4 linked regions of the Homo sapiens genome follow. The protein of the gene in region 4 interacts with the protein of the main gene of each other region in a pairwise test. Each region holds a gene or a part of one and is shown on either strand. Other genes may lie near its edges. The genes, in order: COLGALT2, CREM, SERPINI2 and HPCAL1.

Evidence for each region.
Region 1: the proteins of HPCAL1 (region 4) and COLGALT2 interact in binary tests that used the Homo sapiens proteins (3 or more experiments, as listed by UniProt).
Region 2: the proteins of HPCAL1 (region 4) and CREM interact in binary tests that used the Homo sapiens proteins (3 or more experiments, as listed by UniProt).
Region 3: the proteins of HPCAL1 (region 4) and SERPINI2 interact in binary tests that used the Homo sapiens proteins (3 or more experiments, as listed by UniProt).

What each region holds. Positions count from the first base shown.
Region 1 is NC_000001.11:184,027,723-184,034,762, forward strand, and holds part of COLGALT2 (procollagen galactosyltransferase 2), read right to left. Parts: intron 1-7,040. UniProt on the Homo sapiens protein: Beta-galactosyltransferase that transfers beta-galactose to hydroxylysine residues of collagen.
Region 2 is NC_000010.11:35,178,844-35,185,883, reverse strand, and holds part of CREM (cAMP-responsive element modulator), read right to left. Parts: intron 7,013-7,040; exon of another isoform or gene 6,996-7,012; coding exon 6,898-6,995; intron 6,751-6,897; coding exon 6,608-6,750; coding exon of another isoform or gene 6,555-6,607; exon of another isoform or gene 6,037-6,554; intron 1-6,036.
Region 3 is NC_000003.12:167,450,016-167,457,055, forward strand, and holds part of SERPINI2 (serpin I2 precursor), read right to left. Parts: intron 3,019-7,040; coding exon 2,921-3,018; intron 1-2,920.
Region 4 is NC_000002.12:10,424,887-10,428,127, forward strand, and holds the end of HPCAL1 (hippocalcin-like protein 1), read left to right. Parts: exon of another isoform or gene 1-1,837; coding exon 1,838-1,935; 3' UTR 1,936-2,718; downstream 2,719-3,241. UniProt on the Homo sapiens protein: May be involved in the calcium-dependent regulation of rhodopsin phosphorylation.

The sequences.
Region 1 (7,040 bases), on a different chromosome or scaffold from region 4:
TTTTAGAAATCCATAGTTTGTCTTGCTAAATAAAAAGCTTACAATGGAAACCAACGTACCCAATAAATTTTATTAAAATCTAACAAGATTGAGGAAAGGCAGAGAAGAGGCTTGTACTTTTCTAAAATATTTTCGTATGCTGGCTGTTTCAAGCCTTACATGCCAATTCCACAAAATCCATTTGCAACACAAGAGATGGTCTGACTGTCTGAATACTCTCCCGCCCAACCTGTTTCTAGCACAAGGAAAGCAGTGGCGTGGAAGCTGCATATAAGCTTACTGTTCAATGGTGCAGTGATGACATGAAAAATCCTGATTCCACTTGGCAGCAACTTTCCACTATCTTGGCGGGTGTAAACCATAATCATTGTGGTGTGTGGTGCTGAGACAGGATTATGGGGCTGGCTGGCAACCAAGAAACTAAAAAACAGTCTATTAGTCCAGCAAGGGACTCCGTGTCGGGAATGCTATGGCCCCAAATGTCTACAACCACACTTTTCACAACTATCCCAAGAATTTAAGTTCTACTGTTAGTCTCTAGAAAATTCTACCTTTCCCAAGACTCTAAAATGCAGCAGTTTCTCACTTAATATGGCTTTCAGGGAGAACACCAATCAATGTACCTCCACAGACTCTCCTGTCTTAGAGTTATGTCTCTCTCTTGTGAGAATGAGATACTTGCCTTCACCACTGCCCTCCCCATCTCCAAAACATATACAATCACTCTCAGAAAGAAAAGGGACTGGAAAGAAACAGTCCTACTTCCCTCTTGGCAGCAATTGTATGCACTTTGGGCTTGGCAGTCCAAATGGGGAAAGCTCTATGTAAGGAACCTCCTCTCTGCAGCCTGATGTATCCCTCAATAGGTCTTGAAGTGATTCAACCTGGAAGGTAATGAACTATTCCAATAAAGCCAATGTGTGAATGAAATCAGGTACTCATGAAAATGCTTCAGCTCAGCAGCTTGTCCCAGACTCATCTTCTACCATACTCTTGGGGGTATACAGCCCAAGATCACTATTCTAAGATCATTATTTATGTTATTATTTGTGTTTCTGAAAGACATATCTTCTAAGATGTCTTCAAACATTAATCAGAAAACACTGGAGGGAAGGAGATTATTTTGCATTATGTTTGCAGAGGAACAAAATCTTATCAGTTAAACCAACAAGTCAGGGGACAGGCCTTAGCTTGCTGAATTTGACAAACAACTAAAATAATAATTGTTGCTTCAATTAAGTGAAACACGTTACAAAGTCAGCCCTAGCAAGATGTCATGGAGCTATTATTCAAAGTCTAACTCTGAAAGGATTTCTGTATGGTGCTCCTAGAGAGGAAAAGAAACGCCCTGCAGCCAAATCTGAGGTTTAATTCATGCAAGAGACTTGGCTAATGCCACCTACCACAAATGCTGCATTTTCACGGATCTGAACTACAGAAAGTTCCAGCAAATTAATTACAGCCACTCTATTTATATTCTACCTGACTTTTCAATTATTACCTATAATGAGATTTTTATTTTTATGAACATTAATGCACAGCTTTCCTACCAGAGGAGTAGAGAGCTAAGGGAAAAGTAATACAATCCTGATCCTTTTACCACTAGGTCACTCGCTGGCAGCTTGCCAAGCCTGCTGGTTCCCCAAAGTAGTTACTGCTTGGGTCCTAGGGTTCCTTCAGCAGCCTGAGGTGGGAGCAAAGCTCACCACCCAAATGTCAACATGGGTCAGGCAAGTCAAGTCAAAGAAAGACAGCGGGGACTAACTGCAAGTGCACACAGTGTGGGTCTGATGGGGACTGGGCTGCCTGGACAAAATCCAGGGGACAGCAGCTACTCAGCTCCAACAATAGTTGCTGTGTATGAATCCAGGCCTGGCAAGGTCAGGTGCTGGTTACATGGCATGTTTTGTCTGTGAAAAGTTACCAAGTTATACATTTATGATATATGAACTTTTGGATAAATATTACACCTCATCAAAAAGTTTTTTTTATTAGGGCCAGACCTTCTAGAGGCCAGAGAGACAAGGACAAGAGAGCAGGACGGGTGTTATCAGAGAGGCCTTCAGAGTACCTGCCTGGAACAGGTGTTATATGAAGCTGGCTTTTATTGTGCCACCCAGGGCATGGCTGTAGATAGGCTGGCAGTGTTTAAAGAACATGGGATAGAGAGATGGATTTTAAAATATCACACTTATCCAGAACTGGATATGTAAAACACTCATATTTGGGTTAAAATGAAAAGGATATATGTATATGTATAGAAAGTTTCTAGAAAAATATGAAAGAAAGTGTTAATATTGGTCACTGGCAGGTGGTATAGAGTAGATGGGAGATTTACTTTTTGTGATATTCCCAATCATACTTTTTTTATTACTTTCCCATTTAAAAAAGTCAGAAGAGCAAATTCTTAAAATAACTGAAGTACTATTAAAAATCCATAAAGACCCTAAGGGATTCAAATTTTTAAAAACTAACAATTTTTGATATGCTAACAACATATCAATTAAATGCAATTAAATGAACAAGTCACTCTTTTGAAATAAAAATGTCAAAACATAGAATACATACGTTTTGTAATTCCTGATGAATAATAGCTATAATTTAAACACATATGGTAAAAGTTCTTCATGATATGGTAACTGGGGAATAGGTGTAGTGGCCATACCATAGGCTAATGATTTTCTTTCAGACTTTACTGTATGTTGTTATGCTATGTCAAGAAATATGCAGAAACAAGCCTTATTATTGTCCTACTATAGTCCTATATAAGCCTTATAATGGTCCTACTATACTGTGCCATAGACTTGGAGACGGTGCCACACAGCAATATGACCCAAGTGCACGTTTAAGTGTTGGAAAAAGAACCAAGAGACAACCAGCAGCCTTCTCAGTTACAAGGCATTCATTGTTCATTCCTATGACCACCAGAAACAGACAAGCAAAAGGAACCTAAGAAGCACATGCTTATGTATTTGGAGTCACAAAGAAACTCCCTGGCCTAATCACTTGGATAAAGGAGCTAAAAACAGATCTGAGAAAACCAAACTCTGCTTAAAATACTCCCCATGCTCCTTTAAACCAAGAAGGATATTCATTATAAAATAATCAGCATTAAAACAGCTACACAGGATTAAAAATCTAGAAATCAGTTATCTCATTCCATAATCACCATGGGAATCTCTTAACTGCCCTGTGCTTTAGATGCCTCATCATGGAACTCAATATAATAAAACCAGGGCAACTTAGGCATTCTTACTAATTCTGTAGTTAAGCTGTCATAACTGGAACAACAGGATTGGTGTCATTTATTAGTCACTTCAGTTTTTACCCAGAGGAAATATTCTGAGCTCCAATCATATTTTGAAATTGGAGGTTGCAGGGAGGATTGATAATTTCTTCAATCATTTGGAATGAAGCTGAATTTAGGGGACAACCAAATCTAAGACTACTGATTAAAAAGCCTGAAAAATGGAATCTCTATTTTACCAATATGAACTGAAAATGTAGCCAATACGTGTATGATTAGTGCCACCTTAATCATTTGCCACTAATAATACTTGAGAAATTTCTTTCTACTGTTATGTAGCTATGATCACAGCAAGTGACCTGCATATTTATGTACAACCCACATTTTAGTCATAATCTGTCCCTATGAAATATACCAAAACAGATTAGAGTTCACTAAAAAGTGCCTGAACTAAGTGATGAAATTATCAAGACAGCGGAAGAGAACCACTAAGACCCTTGCATCATTCAAGTGGAAATGACAATTCTTATTTGAAAGAAACACTAGCGTTCTTATCTTCCCAAGTTGGGTCAACCGACAGAAGCAAAAACTAGAACTAATTGGTCTTTTCACAATCTTAAGCAGACCATCTGTACTCGGTCTGCAACATTAGCTGCCTGGGTCACATCCTGGCTCCACCATGCATTAGCCTAGTGACCTCAGGCAAGTTATTTATATTCTCTGTGCCTCGGTTTCCTTCTGTGTAAAGTGATAGAGTAGAATGTAATGGCATCTCCCACCTAGGGTTGTTGTCTGGAGTAAATCAGTTTTGATACCAAAGTGTCTAGAACAGTGCCTCCATGAATGTATCCTTCCTTCCTTCCTTCCTTCCTTCCTTCCTTCCTTCCTTCCTTCCTTAGTTCTTTATTTTTCCCTTCCCTTACCTTTTCCTTTTTCTTTTCTTTTGAGACAGGGTCTCGCTGTGTTGCCCAGGAAGAAGCACAGTGGCTCAATCTCGGCTTGCTGCAACCTCCACCTCCTAGGTTCAAGCAATCCACCCACAGTCTCCCAAGTAGCTGGGACTATAGGTGCATGCCATCGTGCCTGGATGATTTTTACATTTCTTGTAGAGATGGAGTTTCACCATGTTGCCCAGGCTGGTCTTGAACTCCTTGGCTTAAGAAATCTGCCCACCTCGGCCCCCCAAAGTGCTAGGATTACAGGCATGAGCCACTGCATCCAGATAAATGTTAGTTTCCTATACTAATATTTTTTGTTGTTGTTGGAAAGAAGAAACTAAACAAATTTCCATTTGAAGATTTTTTAAAATCTTGATTTTGAAAGGTAAAGGTAAAGGAGATAGGAGAAAAAGGAAAAGATTCAAAAGAAATAGCAACTATCATTGTTAGTAGCATTTATGTAAAAGACACTGTGCATACCTTATATCATTTACTTGTAACAATAACTCTTTGAGACAGGTGTTACTATTAGTTATTTGAAGATAAGGCAGCTATGTCTTAGAGGTTTACTGATGTGCCCACAATCACACAGAAGATTTATGCTCTAGTCTATCTGACCCTAAGCTTGTATATTTCTTCCTCCAACTCTGGTTGATGCCCTCCACGCTAAACTACCAGATTGGGAAAATGAGGAAAGGAGGAAAAAGGTGAGGAAAACAGACTAACAGACAGAAGGGGCCTAAGGCATCATCTGCTTTTTCAGCCATAAACCGAAACTTCTATCTGTAGGGATAACATACAACATTTAATATCAAGAGTGTAATGATAAAATATGACATCATTCTTACCACTGGTGCTGAAAAATGTCACTGATACTAGTTTGGAACAGTTTATAAACACAAAGTATATTAGTATTTCTAGTTAAACAATTATGAAAATGCTACTGATTGGACATTAAAATGTGGAGATAAATTCAAGATAATCCCCAAACAATGCAGAAATAAAGTAGTATGCAAAATGTTAGGACCATCCCCCAGCTCATCACTGTTTATGTTTATGTCAACAGAAGCTCCTCTCTTTATTTAAAAATCCATAAAGCGGTTCCCAATTTAGTATGTTACTTTTCAAAACTCTGCCAAACAAAATGCCCAAATCTTTCTGTAATTACATAGCAGTTACTGCCTTGTGCCTGCACAGACTCTGTGAATCCCAACTGTCTTCCCACAAGCAACAGCAGGCTCTCCAAAAGAAAAACTTAATGTTTCATTTGGGGCAAATGTTTTTCCCTGCGCCATGCTTCGGTTTTCACTGTCATGGTACTTGGCCCCACTCTCCCTAATCATAGGTTTAAGGAGGATGAGGTCAGCCTTCCCTCTGTTGCTAAGGCTACTTGCTCATGGTTCCACTGAATTAAGGAGAACCCACTGAAGTACACTACCACTTGTCACAATGCCTCACAGTTCCCTTCATCTCAGCATATTCCCAATTCCCTAAAACTTAGTGCAGGTTTTAGGACACATGAAATAGATATCTTCCTTAGGTCCTTATCACAGGATTGTGATATTTGAAGGAAAACAATTAGCTTGGTGGATTTTGAGATCAGACAGGTAAATGTAAAAAGCTTTCCTTTTTGCTTATACAAAGTATCTCTAAAATATAAATTTTCCTTTGTTCAGACTAATCTGAATAAACTTGATGCTGACTGAGATAACTGCAGACATTCTTCAACAACAGTATCTTCCAGGTCAATTTGATGATACTCATTTCATCTGTATGTGCAGTGCAGATCTGGTCCAGAACTTAAAGTGAGAAAAATTATCACATAACAGGGGAGTCTGAATGTGATCAATAAGCCAGGTCTCTCACTGACCCATCTGGGACAGAAATCAGATGCTCCTCTAGCCTGTGAGTGGATGAATGAGAAGAGTGAGTCTGCACAGAGTGAGTTATTGTGGTCAGATTCAGAGGAAGCTGAATTCTGTGTGGCTCTGTATTCACTGCGGTTCTATTTTACAAAGTTCTGGGTAGCTCACAGCCATTTTTGACATCAGCATGTGCTGGCTTTGCAGAATGGATACTAATCAGTTTGGCATCTTGGAATGTTGCATAGAGCTTGGGAATGAGAAACTAGAGGCAAGCAATCGGTAGAAGCACCTCAAATCTGTAACATCCTAAACTGAGGTACCACCTCCCATCAGAGTGTTATATCTCATAAGCTTCCCAGCCAAATATTCCCCTAGGGCCAGACCAGAAGTCAGCACTTCCAAAGAGATTCTATGGTACAATACAATCTGTTTGGAGACTTGCAGTCATTAGACCTGCCACCCACTTGAACTCCCTGAGAGAAAACTCTGGTTGATGCCCTATTATCTTTTTTTTTTTTTTTGCTTGTTTTTTGCCTTGCTGATCCCTTTTTCTAGAGCCATCCTTCTTTCCCAGGTTTTAGTTGATTTTTACTCTTCCTTCAAAACTGAGTTCAAACTAAGTGTCCACTCATCAAGAAGACATCCATATCCATACAACTGCCCCAATCTGATTTATAAATCATTTGGTTCTTCCCCAAACCCTTTAAAAGCCATTCAGATCACCTTACACTGCCCAGTAAAATGAATCATATTTATCTGTAAAAAAACACACATATCTAAATACACTTTTTTTCAGCCCTGATCTGGCTGGTTCTTATTTTAAAAAATGCATTAGAAGAATATGCTTGTACAGCCTCTCTGTACCTCAGTTCTCTCACCTGTAAAGTGGTATAATAACAGTGCATATCTGATAGGGTCATTTTGAAGCTTAAACCAGAAAATGAATGTGAAGTTCTTAGAAGAACCACGAGCTCTTATTATTATGTGTGG
Region 2 (7,040 bases), on a different chromosome or scaffold from region 4:
AGATAGATTAACATTTTTAAAAAGACTTCCACATGCTGCGTTCTCTGTGTTTTATTTCACTGACAGGCCAGTGTGGCAGAAACTGAAGAGTCAGTTACAGAATGTCAATAGAACTGAGGTTGAGACACCCTGATGTAACAGCACTTTATCTGGCTCACCTAGAGCAGTTATTTTCTGTACACACTTTAAAAACAGGGTATTTTTAAACCATGGCTTTCCAAAGATTTCATGGGTCTCAGGATTCAGCCCTCATAGTAAAAGGGTTTGAGAGAGATCTAACTAACTTCTTACAAGTATGAAAATGTCAAAAGACACTGCTTTCTTGGCCCCTTGTGGCTAGACATGAGTAAATTGTGTATGTTTTCATATATTTGAATGTGTATTTTTCAGTTGATAATTAGTTTGATGTCACAGAAATAGTGCTTTAGAAAGAGCAGCCCAAGGTCAGGTAACCACAGTGTATTAGAAGTACAAAGCCTAGGCCGGGCGCGGTGGCTCACATCTGTAATCCCAGCACTTTGGGAGGCCGAGGTTGGTGGATCACCTGAGGTCAGGAGTTCAAGACCAGCCTGACCAACAAGGAGAAACCCCGTCCCTACTAAAAATACAAGAAATTAGCCAGGCGTGGTGGTGCATGCCTGCAATCCCAGCTCCTCGGGAGGCTGAGGGAGGAGAATCGCTTGAATCTGGGAGGCGGGGGTTGCGGTGAGCAGAGATTGCACCATTGCACACCAGCCTGGACAAGAGCAAAACTCCGTCTCAAAAAAAAAAAAAAAAGAAGTACAAAGCCTAGAACAGAGCAGCCACTCAAAAAATAGAATGAATGAATGAATGAATGAATGAATGAATGGCTATCATTTCCTCATGACAGATGATATTATAAAAAACTTAAGCCCCCTGTGAATCTAGGAGAGTTAAATGAGGTATGGTTTCAAATTCCAATCATAGAACCTAGTTTTTCAACACCAAATTATCAAGCTTTTAAATAACGATCAAGTCAATCTGAGGTGAGAGTAGCTGCCTCAGGGTAAGAACCCCTAAATAGGTAGATAACAAAGACCTTTACTTCCTTTTTTCTCTTTCTTTTTGCTTTACTCGTTTCCTTTTTTCTTTTCAGTAATGTTTCCCCACAGTTCTGATCAAAAAACTTTGTTTTCACAATATGAACAGCTGACACATCAAGAATCTGTTTCTCATTTTATTTTCTGGGGAAGTCATTATATAATTAGATATGGAAAACAAAAGCTAAACAAACACACACACACACCCCTCACACACTGGCTCTAGTGAGAAAACATTTCTACTGATTAAGTCAGGCACGTCAGCCTCATTTTCATTTTTATGCCAAAGGTGCTCTTGATTTTGTTGTTATCAAATGACAGAGGACCTTCCCATTGAAAATGTTCTCTCTCATCTGACAATAAACAAAATTTCCCAGTGCCTCAGGATCCTGGAAATAGGTTTTACGTGGGCCTGTCTGTATTCAGAGATTTGAGGAGAAAACTGTTTAGGTTTCAAAATAGTCAAGGATAGCATAACATGTGCTTTCAATAAACATAAATCAAGATAGAAAAAATAAGATGAAATTAACTGAATGAATTTAGACATATCTTCTATTTTAGCTATTTATTTAAGAGATGGGGTCTTGCTGTGTTGCCCCACATCCTGATATTGGTCTAGCTGGTCTTAAACTGCTAGGCTCAAGCAATCCTTCTGCCTCAGCCTTCTGAGTAGCTGGGACTACAGGCACAAACCACCAAGCCTGGCGATGTTATACACTTCTTATTTATTTATTTGTTCATTTATTTTGAGATGGACTTTCACTCTTCTCGCCCAGGCTGAAGTGCAATCGTGTGATCTCAGCTCACTGCAACCTCCACCTGCTGGGTTCAAGCGATTCTCCTGCCTCAGCCTCCAAAGTAGCTGGGATTACAAGTGTGCACCACCACACCCGGCTAATTTTGTATTTTCAGTAGAGATGGGGTTTCACCATGTTGGCCAGGCTGGTCTCGAATGCCTGACCTCAGGTGATCCGCCCACCTCAGCCTCCCAAAGTGCTGGGATTACAGGCGTGAACCATCACGCCCGGCCCATGTTATATACTTCTAATCCTAAATTTATACACATGAGCTAATTAAAATACATACACATGTAAATGTTTATATTTAAAACCACTCTTGTTCCAAATTGCAATCCAAAGATTCATAAATGAAATCTCACTGCATTAACTTTAAAAACAGCAGCAAACAGACCTTTGTTCCAATGAATTCTCAGGTTTAAATTCAGAGTGACCATAAGAGAGCACCTATGAGTACTTGTACCTTAAAAGCCAAGAGGTGCATTATAGCAGAAGGAAGACTAAATCATGCTATAACAACAATAGCAACATCAAAGTTTAAAAGCCAGAGTTACATTAAGTAGTGCCTTAAAAAATTTTGAAACAGTTGCCTTAGAGAAATGTAAACAACGTCACTATTAAGAACTGCAACTGGATTAACTTTCGAATGTGTAAGCCTATTATGTTCTAATTCCCTTTATGAAGAAGTTGAATTGGTGCTTATTCGTGAGCCTCCTGAGAATTCTGAATTCTTATAAGGAGTCCACAAAGTTCATATTTTTCTTTTCATAATGGTGCAGTTTAGATTGACCCACTTACCTTTCATGTATAAGAATTCCAGAAAGATGAGTTAATACTCTAATAAGATTCCTCGTAAAATACAATAGGCACAAGCAGAGACAAGGGCCATTTGTGGGAAAAAAACTGAAGTCTTGGGTGATAGTCTTTAATTGGTACAGGAAGAGGTTGGGTATAGTAGGATGGAGGATTTAAGTAACCTTTGTTTCAAGAGGAAATTTAATGAATTAGGAAGCTTCAAACATTTTAATTTCCTCGGTTGCTTTTACAAATTCACTCATTTACTGCCTATCTTAACTGTCTCATGCAGCAAGTAACATTCTTTGTTAATTCTAAGGCTGTCTCTCTCCCGCCATCTCTCGGGTATATGCTTCTGAAATAAAAGACTTTCTTCGACCAGCTCAACTGTTATGCAACACACCTATCACTAAGATCTGTACTTCCAGTGAGGATTCTGCAGGTACAGCTCACTTACTTGGTGTTGTAATAATGGATCCCTGTCTATTTTATGCTTTTTCCTACTCCCCAGGGAGCAGCCTATTCCAACTTTCACTTTTTAGTTTTTGTGATAATAGTAAGTCAATATAATAAGGCCAACTTCTGCCAAATATCTTTCAACTATTAAAAATGTAACTGCTTGTATATGGGAAAACTTGAATATACTTTATTTCTTCAACTTTGATACACATTTAGTTCTTTTAAACACCAGCTAACTCATTATTCCAAATTAAAAATAACTAATAAAATATTGGAAAAAAAGAAATAAAAGCAAAGTTTGGGAGAAAGCCATCCATGGATAAAAGCTGAACAATTAAACCTAAAATTTTTTTTTATAATAAAAGGTTATGAAAGAGCATTAAAAAAAATTTACAGCTCAAAGGGAAGGAAAAAAATAGGAAAATCTCCAGAAATTCTAATAAAATACGTTCCTCTATTCAAAAACCAAAGGAAACTGGCAATTGTTTCCATTTCTAGACATTCTGCTACAACATTAAAGCATTAATATCTGCTAAGTTAGTTCTATAAAAAATAAGATCAATAAAAATGGATGTTGTGTGTGTAAGTATGTTTACCCTCCAATTAAAGTAAACGTCTTCTAAAAAGTTTGAATGTTGTTAGTATTCACTTCTCAAAGAATTATCTACATATATTTCACTAAATGTCCCCAAAATGCATTTTTAACAAAAGAAATTCACATTGTGTGAACAAATGGCAATTTTTACCTGCAGACTGTACATACAGAACTATAACTTCTCATCAGAATAATTTCTAGGATCATACTGTATAGACTCAAATTAAGAAACCAAAGTAAGAAATAGTCCATGACCTCTTATGTGGCAAATAGACAGATGTGTTTTTTTTGTTTGTTGTTTTGAGACAGAGTCTCACTCTGCTGCCCAGGTTGGACAGTGCAGTGGTGCAATCATAACTCACTGCAGCCTCAAACTCCTGGGCTCAGAGAATCCTCCCACCTCAGCCTCCTGAGTAGCTGGGATGAGCGCATACCACCACACCCTGCTAATTTTTAAAATTCTTTTGTAGAGACAGGGTCTCACTCTATTGCCCAGACTGGTCTCAAAGTCCTGGCCTCAAGCAACCCTCATTGCCTAGACCTCCCAAAGTGCTGGGATTACAGGTGGGAGCCATCACACCTGGCCTAAGATCTAATTTCTACAGATGCAGTTTTCTAGTTCTCAACCAAAATTCCTGACTCTGCTCCTCTCATCCCCCCCACAGACACACAGAGTGAGGTTTAAGGCCAGCCCCCTGCTGTGAGCAGGTACCAAGGACACAGGGAATGAAGCCATTGGGGCTGGCTGGAGGGAAAGTTCAATGAACATGAATGAGACAATGGTACACCTAACTTAATTTCTCTGTTTCATGCCAATAGTAGCATGTCTTTTTCCCCCTACTTTTACCCATTATCTCCTTTGTCTTCACAGGAACCCCAGAGTTTGGCAATTTAGTATTATTCCCACTTCAAAGACTAAAACCTGAGATGTGAATTTAATAAAGCTTCTTGCTCTGATCATTGAGTTTGCAAATGGCACAAAGATGGTTCCTTCCACATCCTCTCCAGCTTCAACCCCATACATTTTCACAATTTCAAATTTTCAGCTAATAATCTAGACAAGTTAACCCTACAGCATCTGCTTCCCTATCAACTTGTAAAGGAATCACTGCTTCTATCAGAAGTCCTAAGTAGCATTAGCATATGCCAGAGAAATGTTACGATGACAGCATCTTAGTGGTTCCCAACACTTTGAGAAGTCTTAGTGTCATTTCAGCAGTCACTTCCAACCTTTTCCCTGTCATTACACAAACAGAACATGATGACATGTGTACAGCCCACTGGGGTGAGTGGATGGAGCTGCTCAAGGCCAGGGCTGACCAGCCAGGAGGCGCCAGCAGCTTCTGCCCAGCCCCTCTGGGGACGGGGGGACGAGGCACTCAGCACTCTCATAACCTGCGTGCTGTGCTGTAGAGGCTCATCAGCTGGCATATTCAGTTTTACAGTTCTAAAACCCACCAGAGATTCCCAGTGTGCCAGACAAAAGAGCATGTAAACGAGAGAAGTAATAAAAAAATGACAATGTAAACCTCAAGGTCTATTTCTTACAGATGGTGGGGATTTTCTTTTCCTAACACTGACTTTGGACAAGTCTACTGGGTGCCCTGTCAAACGTGTGAATACACTACACCCCGGATCTGCTAGGTATCATGGTAGGAGTTCCCCTCAATTACCAACAGAGAATGTATTTAATAGTTTACTACTGCAAATCTACCACTGCTACAAGAAAAACTCTAAAAAGCTCCACAAAAATAATGACTATATAAAGTCTTCTCATACATTAAAGATTATAGCTTGTTTTAGTAGTCAGGACTTAAATTAAGACTTGAGTTTTTTTTTCTTGGTATTGCTACTTTTTAAAGGAAAAACAAAGAATATATCTAAAATCTTAATACCTTATTTGGATAAACACATTATTTAATATCACATATATTCCAGTACCTAAGTAGCTCTTTTTAAAGTCAGAAAACTAAAATTATGAATCTCTTCAACAACATGACTGCTGTCAATATATTTGTTCAATTACTTTGAGGACCTAGGGTAGCAGAGTTTACAAAACTCACTTTACTTCATATTATAATTACATGGGAAATTGATTTAGACAACTTCCATGGACAATTTATACTTCAGAAAGGACAGGAATATCACATTATTCCAGTACCTAAGGGGCTAGCTTAGGATATGTGATATCCCTAACCTTTCTCCTCCTTTTTCTTTTCTTTCTAGCTCTTGCTTTTTACGTATCAAACACTCTTCTTTTGGGAAAAAAACTAGTGCTTTAATCAGAGCAAAAAGCACAGAATTAACGGTCCATTAAAATGCACAAGACTGAATGTGAATGTATCTGTTTATTTAGAGCTTTCAGTGTGTAAAATTTCAAATAAAATTATCTATCCAATTGCTACAGTTTAAAAAATTAAATCATTTTTCCATTCTCTTTTAGGAAAAACTGTAGCACAAATTAACAGAGTAGAGAGTAGTGAAACATTGAAAACATACTTTAGAAAACTCTCAGATTAGTAAGAATAGTATGTAATTGTGGGTAACAAAAGCCAACAAGAATGAAATACAGACATTTATGTTCGCATGCATCATAAAGACAACAAAAACAATGTTTTACTAGAGATTAATATAAACATGTAAATAGGAAAAATTCTCCTTTTTACCCCAAAATTTTCTTCTATATTCGGCAGTCAAAATTTTTACTTTTCAAAATTATATGACAGCTGTCAATACAAAGATCTCACTTTTTAACATATACTTTCATTCTATGATACAGTTTAGGTATTAATGATGCATTTTAAAATGGAACAATTTAATGCCAAAACCTGAGTTGCTTCAATATAACTAGAGAAGACTTAAAGCTAGCACTGTATCATATCGAATTGCAGCATACATACTGTATTGCCCCGTGCTAGTCTGATATATGCTAGTTGGTACTGCCATGGTAGCAATACTAGGTGGTGTTCCTTCTTCCTCTGATCTCTCTTCTTCAATCTTGGGAACACCAGGCACATCAGAGGACAGTTCATTCAGTATTTTCCTAAAATACAATTTAACAAGGTAAGTCACTAAGATACATGAATAAGTCTTAAAACAGAAAAGCTATAAAGGAAGAATTGATTTGATGTATAATTATTCTACCATTTTGGAAAAAGTATCTTTACATTAGGAAACTTGGTTAACTTACCTATAAGAGGGTCTTCGTGAAAGGATTTCTCTACGTTTATGAGAATCAATTACACCTTCTGATTCTGCAGATTCATCTGTCTCTGCAATTGCTGCTACCTATAATACAAGATTTTCTGAAATGTATCATAAAATATATGCTCT
Region 3 (7,040 bases), on a different chromosome or scaffold from region 4:
CTCCCTTAGCCATTGTCTATAGACAGAATGAAAGAGGCTTTCCAGATCTGAATTAATCCCACCCTGTATATTTAACCTCAAAGCCAAAGTGCCTTTTATATTCTGTATTTGGTTTTGATCGTAGTTTAAAATAAAATGTACTTGCCTTCAAATCTGGGGAAGCTATGAAATTCTAAGGAACTTCTGTGTCACCTGTTACAAAATCACTTCAGAGATACACTTTAAAACCTGTTAAAATTTTCAGCATAAGATCGTGCTTTACAACGTTTTGTTCTGGTGTGGATATGAGCTGAGAGTGAATGCTCCTTTTTCTCCCCTTGGTGGAACTGATGTATATGTGAAGCGTTTCTGGTAGAGTGAATTGCAAGTATAGTCTCCTCAAGAAGGAAGAAGTGAAACCCGGAGCCCAGAAGCCATGTCAAGCTGGCCTTGCAAGACAAGATAGATCTGACAATGTTCCTCAGAGGACAAAGGAAGCATGCTCTAGAAAACTGCCTGGCTCATAATTGGCTCGCAATAAATATTTGTAATATATAAGTCAATAATAAATAGGTCAATGCATCTGAGTATGTCTAGTGATAGAAACCTGTAAAGTGGAGAGAGATGGGCATCCACACTATTAGTGTGAATTAACTGAAATGCGAGAGAATTTCTCTCAAGGTCCGGCAAATAAGCACCTTCTTCTCCCAGGACTGCCTGGAAGAAGACAAATAAACACAGAGGGAATGACCTAGTGGCCCACACCAAGAGGAAAGACCAAAAAGCAGGTTAGGAAGGAGTGAAGAATTTCACCCAGTTTAGCAATGGCACCAGCCCAAATGACTCCCTGGCTATTAGACTAATCCACTTAGTCTCCTTTGTTCCATCTCACTGCAGAGAAAGCCCAGTCTTAGGAAAAGAACAGGCCCTGAAATATGATAGGTTAGAAGTAAGAATGTGGACTCTACAAACTCATTCATTATACCTTCATAGTCATTATTTCTCTTAATTTTTAAATGAAAATTCTAAGTACATTGTTATTAAATTAAGAGAACAAGAAAACAATACGTTTGCTAGATGTGCAAGTAATATTAATGTGATACTTTTCCCACTTGCTGTTTTATATTTAACTATGTGCCAAATGTTAAACTAGATGATTTACATACATTCTTTTATTTATTTCCCCAGTCACTATATTATCTCACTTAACAGATTAGAATGCTTACACTCAGAAAGGTTAAATATTTTACTACAGGTTACACAAGGAGTAGTAACTGAGTGAGAAGTCAAATATTTTTCTAACAGTTTCCAAAATAACTCTATAAAAACATTTCATTCAAAACTTGTGAACTATATAAATATAAGGTAGTGTCCCTTTCACACAGATGTCCCATAAGACTAGTGTTGGGCTGCTTCATAGTAGCCTTTAGTGAATGTTTATTGTACAAATGATAAGTAGAGATAGCAGAGAATTTACTGTGCTCCTAGCTACCAGCAGGGGTATCAGCATTGGCTATGACTATTCTATTCTAGGCAATAAGACGGAACCAAAATGGTTAAAACAGCTCAAATAGGTAACTCAAGAGGGAAAGAACAGAAGATGCTGGACATTTATTCTTTTCTGCACTGGGTCATTTTCTTGAATAAAGTCTTTTATGAAACATTTTGGAAGTATTTTCTTTAAAAATCTGCCTGTAACAGGAGATTTTTTAGAAGTCACAAATTGCTGGGAATTTGCAGAACAAGTGGCTGTTTGAAGTGTCTGAGGCATATTGAGTGATCTCCCTATGGCCAGAAAGAAGTTTAAGAAAAGGAAGTGCATGAAAAATAGTTTGGATTATTGAAGGTTGAAGAGGTGGTTGTGTCTCAGGGCACACTTACAGAGCATCCTGTTGCAGTATTTAATGTTGACCATCTCATACCTAGTGCGGACAAAATTGTCAGAGAAGTCAGATCTATCTGTCAGTGTGAGAACGAGTAGCTACACCGTGTGTGAAGGTGATAATGAACATTTTGATATTTGTGACCTCATTCACCTCCTCCACCAGGAAAGTTTTTCATTCTGTTCATTTGCCCATATAATTGATGGGTGATGACTAAATTAACAACACGTTTCCAAAGCCCAGATACCTATATAGAAATAAATACATAAAACATTTCTGCACTATTTCATGTTATGATTTACAACCCCATCAGACAGACAAGCTTAGGCCCATTTTTATAGAACAGAAGACTGAATTTAAAAGAGGGTAAGTAACTTGGGACAAACTGGCTCTCTTCATCCATTTTTTTAGCGAGTTATTTTTGAACTAGTGTGTACCACTGAGACTCGAAGAATTCAAAGACTATCTTGGCTTTGTTGTACAAGTGAACGTGTTAACCATGCAGGATTCCCCTGATGCGAGTTAGCATAAGAGCTCCATCTTATCTTCTCAGATATGTTGTCAGCCCAAAAGACTCTGTTGCTAAATCTGCAAGCTGTAGCGTTACAATTTCTTGATTGTGTTCATCATCCAGCAGCTTATGGATGACTATTTCATGTGTTCTCATATTAGTGAATTAACATTTGCAAATTGGTTTATAAGAGTTGTATTAGCTCTGCTTAGATGAGAGACTCAAAGTTGTAATTCCCATTATTCAGATGAGGAGATCCAAACAGGGCAGAAATAAAAACCCATATAATACTTTTACTTATGTAGTTTTATTAGAAGTATAGCCAGAGTGCTTATCTAACATTCTAAAATGCTTTTTGACTTTCATTAAGAAAAACTACTTAAACATAAAGTGCTTGTTTACAGACAGCTCAACATGACTATGACATTTATTCACTGTGCGTATATTTATCAGAGCTGAATGCTCTTTCAGTTTTAAGCTCAGCTAGTTAATGTAGTCCTAACAAAACAAATTAACATCATAATATAAGAATTATTTATCATACTACCTGTTATTCCAGAAAGGTCGCAGCCACCACTAAATATCTCGGTTATGTTCAAAGAATACAAAACGTCTTTGAAGTCTACTTTTTGTTCTACTTTAAATCTGTTATTAAAAAAAAAAGAAAAAGAAAAGTCTTGAAACACTGCACATTTTTGCTACCAATTTTTTAATGGATGACTTAGAGGATAATATATTGTAAAATCTTTTGTTTTTATTATCTCAATTACATTTTCTCACATTTCACACCATTTTCCCCGGCTCCAACAATCAGCTCTGGGTTGCCAATAACTTGCTTCCCAGATAAATGGTTGGAGGAAAGAGGGAACAGAAATTGCATTTTTTTTTGAAGTAACAATTACCCAACAAAACTCGGTGAGAATTCTAAGTTCTATCTAAGGTCTCAATTGCTTGGCTTCTTTCTAACAAGTCTAAAATTTCCCTCTTATGTATTCAAGATTTTTACACCATCAAAGATGGTTCCTGGCAGATGCCCATGACATGATGAGCAGGGAACAGGAGTCCACAGTCCTTGGAGAAGATTGTTAGCTATTAAGGAAGAGAGAAATATTTATAACCCATCATTCATCTCGCCCATTGTCACAGTCAATGAGATGTTCTTTAGTGTATGGACAGGCCTAATATCTTTTAAATAGGCCCTATAAAAGGATAAAGGAAGGGGAACCAGATTTCTTTCAAAGGAAATAAAAGACAAAAATTACAGGAGTGGGGGGGGGTGGGCAAAAAAAAAAGGAGGTAGCCACTGCTTCCAACACTGAGCCGTAAGTTAGGAGACTAGTGTCTGGCTCACCTGTCTGTGCCTTAATTTGCCTCACCTGTGAAAAGGGAACTTAACCAGATAATCCCAAAAGATTTTCTCAGCCACTGATCTTCCACGATTCCAAGTCAAAAGCAATCACTGAACCTCACTTTCCCATTTAAATAAAAGTGGGGGTGGGGGGAAGCTAGTACTTATTGACTTCATAGATGCTTAAAGCATTAATTTGCATTTTAAATACAGATCAGAAACTTTGTTTATGAAAGAAAAGACACATGTAATAATCTTAAACAGGGAGCTATATATATTTCCTACATCAGCAAAATTCCAGGCAATTCCCAATGAGGGGCTTTGTCTATGCCCTCTGGGCATTGACCCCTGTGCTCCCCAGTTAGAATGCATACGCTAGTGCTCAAGGATCCTTGTTCATTCAGCAGGTAGGCCCACATCTGGAGCTAGAAATTAGGTGGGGCAATCAGTCTAATTAGATCATTGTTTTAATTGGAAATACTGAATGAGCTTCTTAATTATAATTCTCCAAAGCAATGAACATGCTGTGGCAGAACTCTACTGGGACTAAATTATTTCTTGGTAAAACAATATGTTTTTTTGGAAGATGGTAACTCATTCAGAACCCTATCTACCTGGGAATGGACACAACATGCACATTAAAATCAGCTGATAAAGAAAATAGCTCATTCTATGCCAACTGCTTTCACCCTCTTCCTTGTAACTTCCTACTAAGAAAGATAATATGCAGCATGATGGTTTGGGAGGTTGGCTTTTTTCCTGTTTTTATTACCACAGTCTTTAAACTGAATGGAGTATGGGCTTTTAAAGGGTGGAGAATATATGTTCTAATCTACCTATAAATGGGCTATAATAGTCCAATAATTTTAGGATAATGACAAAAATACTGCAAGACTTATTACAACTTCTAATAATGCCTAATTATCACTGGAGAGTCATTTAAGTAACAGTCCTGCTCATAATATAGTCCAATGAAACCTACAGCAATAAAAACACATTCAGCCATCTAATGAATGTATAATCTACAGCCAATTCCTAATTATCCATAATTATTGGAGCCATGAATAGCCAGGTGTGAAGAAGCACTGCCATGTGTTAGGTACTTAAGATAAATTATAGTTTTTAATCTTTAGAAAAATCTAAGGAAGTCGGCATTATTTCCATTAACGTATAAGAAAATAGAAGCCTGAGGAGGTTAATTTTCAGGCTTAAGGTTAAGGTAGGTTCCAGAGGTATGATTTAAACTCAGGTCTATTTGAAGTCAAAGCTAATGTGCTAACTGCCACTACTTTCTAATCAAAATGTAATTCAACACCACCATATTGGTCAATATATATAATGTCCCTCTTCCAAAGTTTATGAGTCTTCATATTTCTCCCAGTTGTGGTTCATTTTCCCTTTTCCTTAATCCTCCTCTAAAATTGTCAAAAGAACAGCAGGCAAAAGTAGAAGAATGAGCAGCAAAATGCTAGATAAACAATTAGCAACTAAATCATGAATGGAATTTTTAGCATATGCAAATAATATCTATTTGTTTAAAAGAGAGTAATTCACTCCCAAATGTAACCATTGTGCTGAAACAGATCTCACAAAGGGAAAAGCTGCAGAAAAATGAAAAACAATCCCAATTTTTGTTTTAAGAATGACCTACTTCTGGCCTCCAGGCCCTGTTGGGGAATGGTATTGGCCCTTCCTTTCCCCTTATCCCCAGAGTTCTTGTTTAATGAAAAAAAGTCTTGGATCAATTTCCCTCTGGGTTTGTGTTATCATCTGAAATCCCAGCTTTGGTACAGTGGGCTTGAATCATTCTTGGTGTATTAGGCTATTCTCACACTGCTATAAAGAAATACGAGTCTCAAAAAAAAAAAAAGAAAAGAAAAGAAAAGAAAAGAAAAAAGAAATACCTGAGACTGGGTAATTTATAAAGAAAAGAAGTTTAATTGGTTCACAGTTCCAAAGGCTGTACAGGGAGCATGATGCTGGCATTTGTTGGTTACCAGGGAGGTATCAGGAAACTTACAATCATGGCTGAAGGCAAAGAGGAATGGGCACATCTTACATGGCTGGAATAGGAGGAAGAGAAACAGGGGGCAGGGGCTACACACTTTTGAACAACCAAATCTCGTGAGAACTCTACGATGAGCACAGCACTGAAGGGGGAAATTTGCCCCCATGATCCCATCACTTTCCACCAGGCCCCATCTCCAACACTGGGGATTGCAATTTGACATGAGATTTGGGTGGGGACATAAATCCAAACCATATCACTTGTACTGTTCAGAGCTGGAACCAACCAAACCAAATCTTAGGGTTGCTCATGAGGAGAAAAATACAACACAATCTTTGACAATGGTGGCCCTAGATGGTTATGTGAGTACACAGTAAATTCTGGTCACTTTCCAATCAATTACCTCTGTGTGTGTGTGTGTGTGTGTGTGTGTGTGTGTGTGTGTAAAATAATTAAAATACTCTATTAACGTCACAGGCTGAATTTAAAATACTTTCACATATGAAACATCTGGATAATGTTTAATGTATGCCTAGTATTCCCATTTTTATCCATGTCCAATAGGTCAAAGTAAACGAACATTTTGTAATCACTACTGCAGCTGGTCACAACGTATCTATTCTCATATCCAGTCTCATTTTCCTTGCCTTCCTGCCACCCACACACAATTTACATTCACCCACTTATAGATCCAAGGCTGGCCAAGCCTAGAATTAATTTCTAGCCAGCAAAAAGATGATCATTTATGTCCTGTGGTAAGTGTTACATCTTTTGAAAAGTCTCCTTGGTACGGCTACTCCAGATCTCTCATCCTACTGCTCACCCTATCACTGACTGTTTGTTCTGTTCTGTGCTCCCTCTCTTGCTTGCCCTACAGTCACCTGTTTTCAGACGTCTGGCTGACCTCTTCTAGTATTGGCTCAGCCATTAATTAGCTGTGTGACCATAGGCAAGGTATTTACCTGTCTCCATCTTGTCTGTAACCTTAATGTAAAACTAGACCTTCATCAAATTGATTGAGGAATTTAATGCGATATGATGGGGGGCCACCTATTACAATGTTGGCATTATAATATATGGCCACTGTTAGAATTAAATGAGTAATAATACAAATAATATTTAGCTAATATTGAGCACTAAAAATTGTATACACATTATCTCATGGAATCCTCACAACACTAAGAGGCATGTGTTATCATTACTGCATTTAACAGTATAAGAAAAATCTTAGAAAAGTAATTTGCTTAAAGTTATATAGTAAGAAAGTGGCAGGGCTCTGGGTCTTCAATATTATTTTCAGTAATCTGGTTT
Region 4 (3,241 bases):
AGGCCTCTAGGCTGGGCTGATGGGTTTCTCCAGGACACAAGTATCATTAAAGCCACCCTCTCCTCAGCTTGTCAGGCCGCACATGTGGGACAGGCTGTGCTCAGCAACCCCCTCGCCTGCCCTGCCCTCCATCAGGAGGAGCCAGTGGAACCTTCGGAAGCTCCCAGCATCTCAGCAGCCCTCAGAGTCGTCCTGGGGCAGCTCTGGTTCTCCTGACTGGAGGTCCATCTGGGCTGGCCTGCTCTCTCTCGGCCTGAGACAGGAGGGCCTGGGGTCAGGAACTGGAAGTGGGGAGGCTGGGGCCGTGGACTCTGAGGCCCCACACCTAGCCAAGGAGATGACCACACAGCTGGCTGCCCTGAGTGGTCAGAGGTGGAGGGTGGGGAGCCACTCTCTCCATTGGCAGAGGTTCCTGGGGACTGTCTGCTGAGGGCCTGGCTGTCCCTCCCTCTCCCTACCCACCCCTTAGCCCGGGCATTGTTTGGGCTCTCTTGGGGCCAGCAGGCTGCCCAGGCCCCAGAGGCATCAAGTTCGTGCCCTGGAAGAAGCCAGCCTGCCCAAGCCTGGGCCAGAGTCCCATGAGGACAGGTGTCCCTGCCTGCCAGTGGGCTGGAGGGGCTGAATTCCCAGCAGGGCCCTACTGTGCAGGGGCATCCTCCGTCCTGGTGCTGGTCTGAGTCCTCAAATGCATCCTCCCAGGTGCCTTTGAGATGGGTGTTCCCATTATCCCACCTTCGAGACGAAGATCCTGAGACCTGGAAACGTTGGTGGCTTGCCATGCGCCAGAGCCGAGAGCCCCTCCTGCATGCCTTCCCCTGTGCTGGGCCTGGCTGCATGCGTCTGTGTTGCCTGCACAGACATTTTGCAGGGTGCCCTAGTGATTCCAGCTGACAGCACAGAGCCTCAAACAGACACATGGAGGGGCTGCCCCAGGACCAGGCCGCCAGGACGCAGCCAACCTCAAACCTCATCCTTCCCCACCAGCTGGAGCCAGAGGGACCGCCTCCTGCCCTTGAGGCCATGTCTGAACGGGCAGAATCCTTACAGCCTATCCTGCTTGTGGACTAGCAGAGCCAGGGCTATAGTGACCACAGTGTGAGCTCATTGACAGCGGTTATGGGATGGGGAGCGGAGGGTCAGAAAACCTCACCCCACCCAGCTCAGCCGATCAGCCTTACGGAGCCCTGCCCTAGGCCACGAGCCTCCAGAGGCCACTCAGCCCAGTGTGGAGTCACCGAGTCTGTGTCCTGGGAGAGGGAATATGTTGTCACCAGCATTGGATGCGGAGGATGAGGGGGCAGCTGATTCCTTAGCACGACCAATCTTTTTCTAGGTTTTCCTCTCACCGCATGGGGCCAAAACAGTACAGAGCATGAGTTTGGTACCCCAAGCCTGAGCAGCGGGTCTACGCTGATGCCAGGGAGGATCCGGACCGTGCTTCCGGGGGCCCCCAACCAGCATGGCCTTCTCAGCCTGGATTCTGTATGGGTTAGAGGCAAATGCTTCATTTTTCTGCACAGTGTACACGTTCCTTAATAAGCGAAGTGTGGGGTGATTTCTAAAAGGATTTAAATGGCCCTCATCAGCCACGTCCTGCTGAGCTTGCTGGGTAAGCCCTTTGAGGTACCTGATGTATTGCAGGGAGCAGGGAAAGGAAAAAGGATTTTTTTTCAGAAATGCCTGTAAAGTGAATGGAGACTAGACACCGTCCAGCTTCAAGAAGGCTCAGGACTTTCAACAAAGGGAGCATACCTGACCTGAGAGCTGTCCCCATCCTCTCTGGAAGCATAAAGAACAGTGAGCACTGGCTAATCCCATTGTCTCTGGTCCCCTGCAGGCAAACTGTCCTTGGAAGAATTCATCAGAGGTGCCAAGAGCGACCCCTCCATCGTCCGCCTGCTGCAGTGCGACCCCAGCAGTGCCAGTCAGTTCTGAGCGAGCGGCCCCTGGACAGTTGCAGAGAAACACAGGCTTGTCGTGCCGTTTAAGCTTTGCTTGCAAGAGTGGATGCCCCGCAATCGTTCCTGCTCTCCCGGGCCCCGGGCCTGGGGCATGCGTTGCACCTGCCCAGCCCGGTGGCTGCGCCTCCCTCCTCCACCTGACCAACGCGACATTCCTCCCCTCACGCCTGGCCCGGTCCCTTCCAGGGCAACTCCCAGGGATGTGGTGACATGCAGGGTTCAAGTGTTCTTGGTTCCAGGCACCTCCCGGCTCACGGGGAGCTCAGAGGTCCATGCCGAGGAGACCAGGCAGGACCTCCCGAGGCTGCGCCCCGGCCGGCCCATGCGTTTTGTGATCCCAAGTGACTCTGTGGGAAGGGTGGGGACGAGGCGTCGGGAGGGTATACAGGGAGCCCCTCCCGTGCATGGCTGCCCCCCCGTTCATTTTCTCCACCACAGCCGCTTGCACGTATAGATACTGTGGTCCCCTTTCTTTTAATATATAAATTATGTATGGTGAAGTGGAGTGTATTGTGTAGGTCCCGTATTTAATGCCTCTGACTGCCTTTGAAGCGCAGCCCTCTGTGGCCCGCAGCCCCCTGAGCCTGGCTGTTGTGTGGTATTTATGCTCTCTTTGTCTGCCTGTTTCTAAGGAAATGCATGTGTGCCCTGAGCCGTGATGATCCTCCCATCCGTGTTGTGAGCACAGGCATTTGTGTCTGGTCTGTCCTCCCTGTTGATTGGTCTGGCATTTCCGGTATTAAAATGATAAAATAAATGGCATTTTCTGAGTTTTGCGTCTGCCCGCGGGAGCCCCCATTCCTCAGGCCGTGGCCCCTGCACTCTCCAGGCAAGGCGGGTGTGCTGCGTGCCACCGCTGTTGGTAAATCCGGCCCCTCTTACGTCCCTCCAGCTGTCCCCGCGTTTATAAATCTTGCACAGCCTGTTCTTCAATATCTGCCTAATGCCAAGAAATACTCGTGGAAATAAACGATGACTGTTCTTGGCAGATCTGACGGTCAGGCTTCTGCCTCCCCCCAGCCCTTCCCTCTCCTTCTCCTTCCACGGTTTCAGGTCGTAGGAAAGCCACATTCCAAGAGAGGACGGGCATAGCCAAGGGTGCAGTCAGGCTGGACCCAGAGGTGGCAGGCCTGGTTCTCCATCCAGCCTTCGCCGCTGCCGTCAGTGCTTCTGGTCCCAGCAGCAGAAGGCCCAGCTGAAGAAGTGGGGGTTGGTTGGTCTCGCCTGCCAAGGGATCCAAAGGCAGCATCGCTGGGGATCCCCAGGCATCAGCTTGTCTT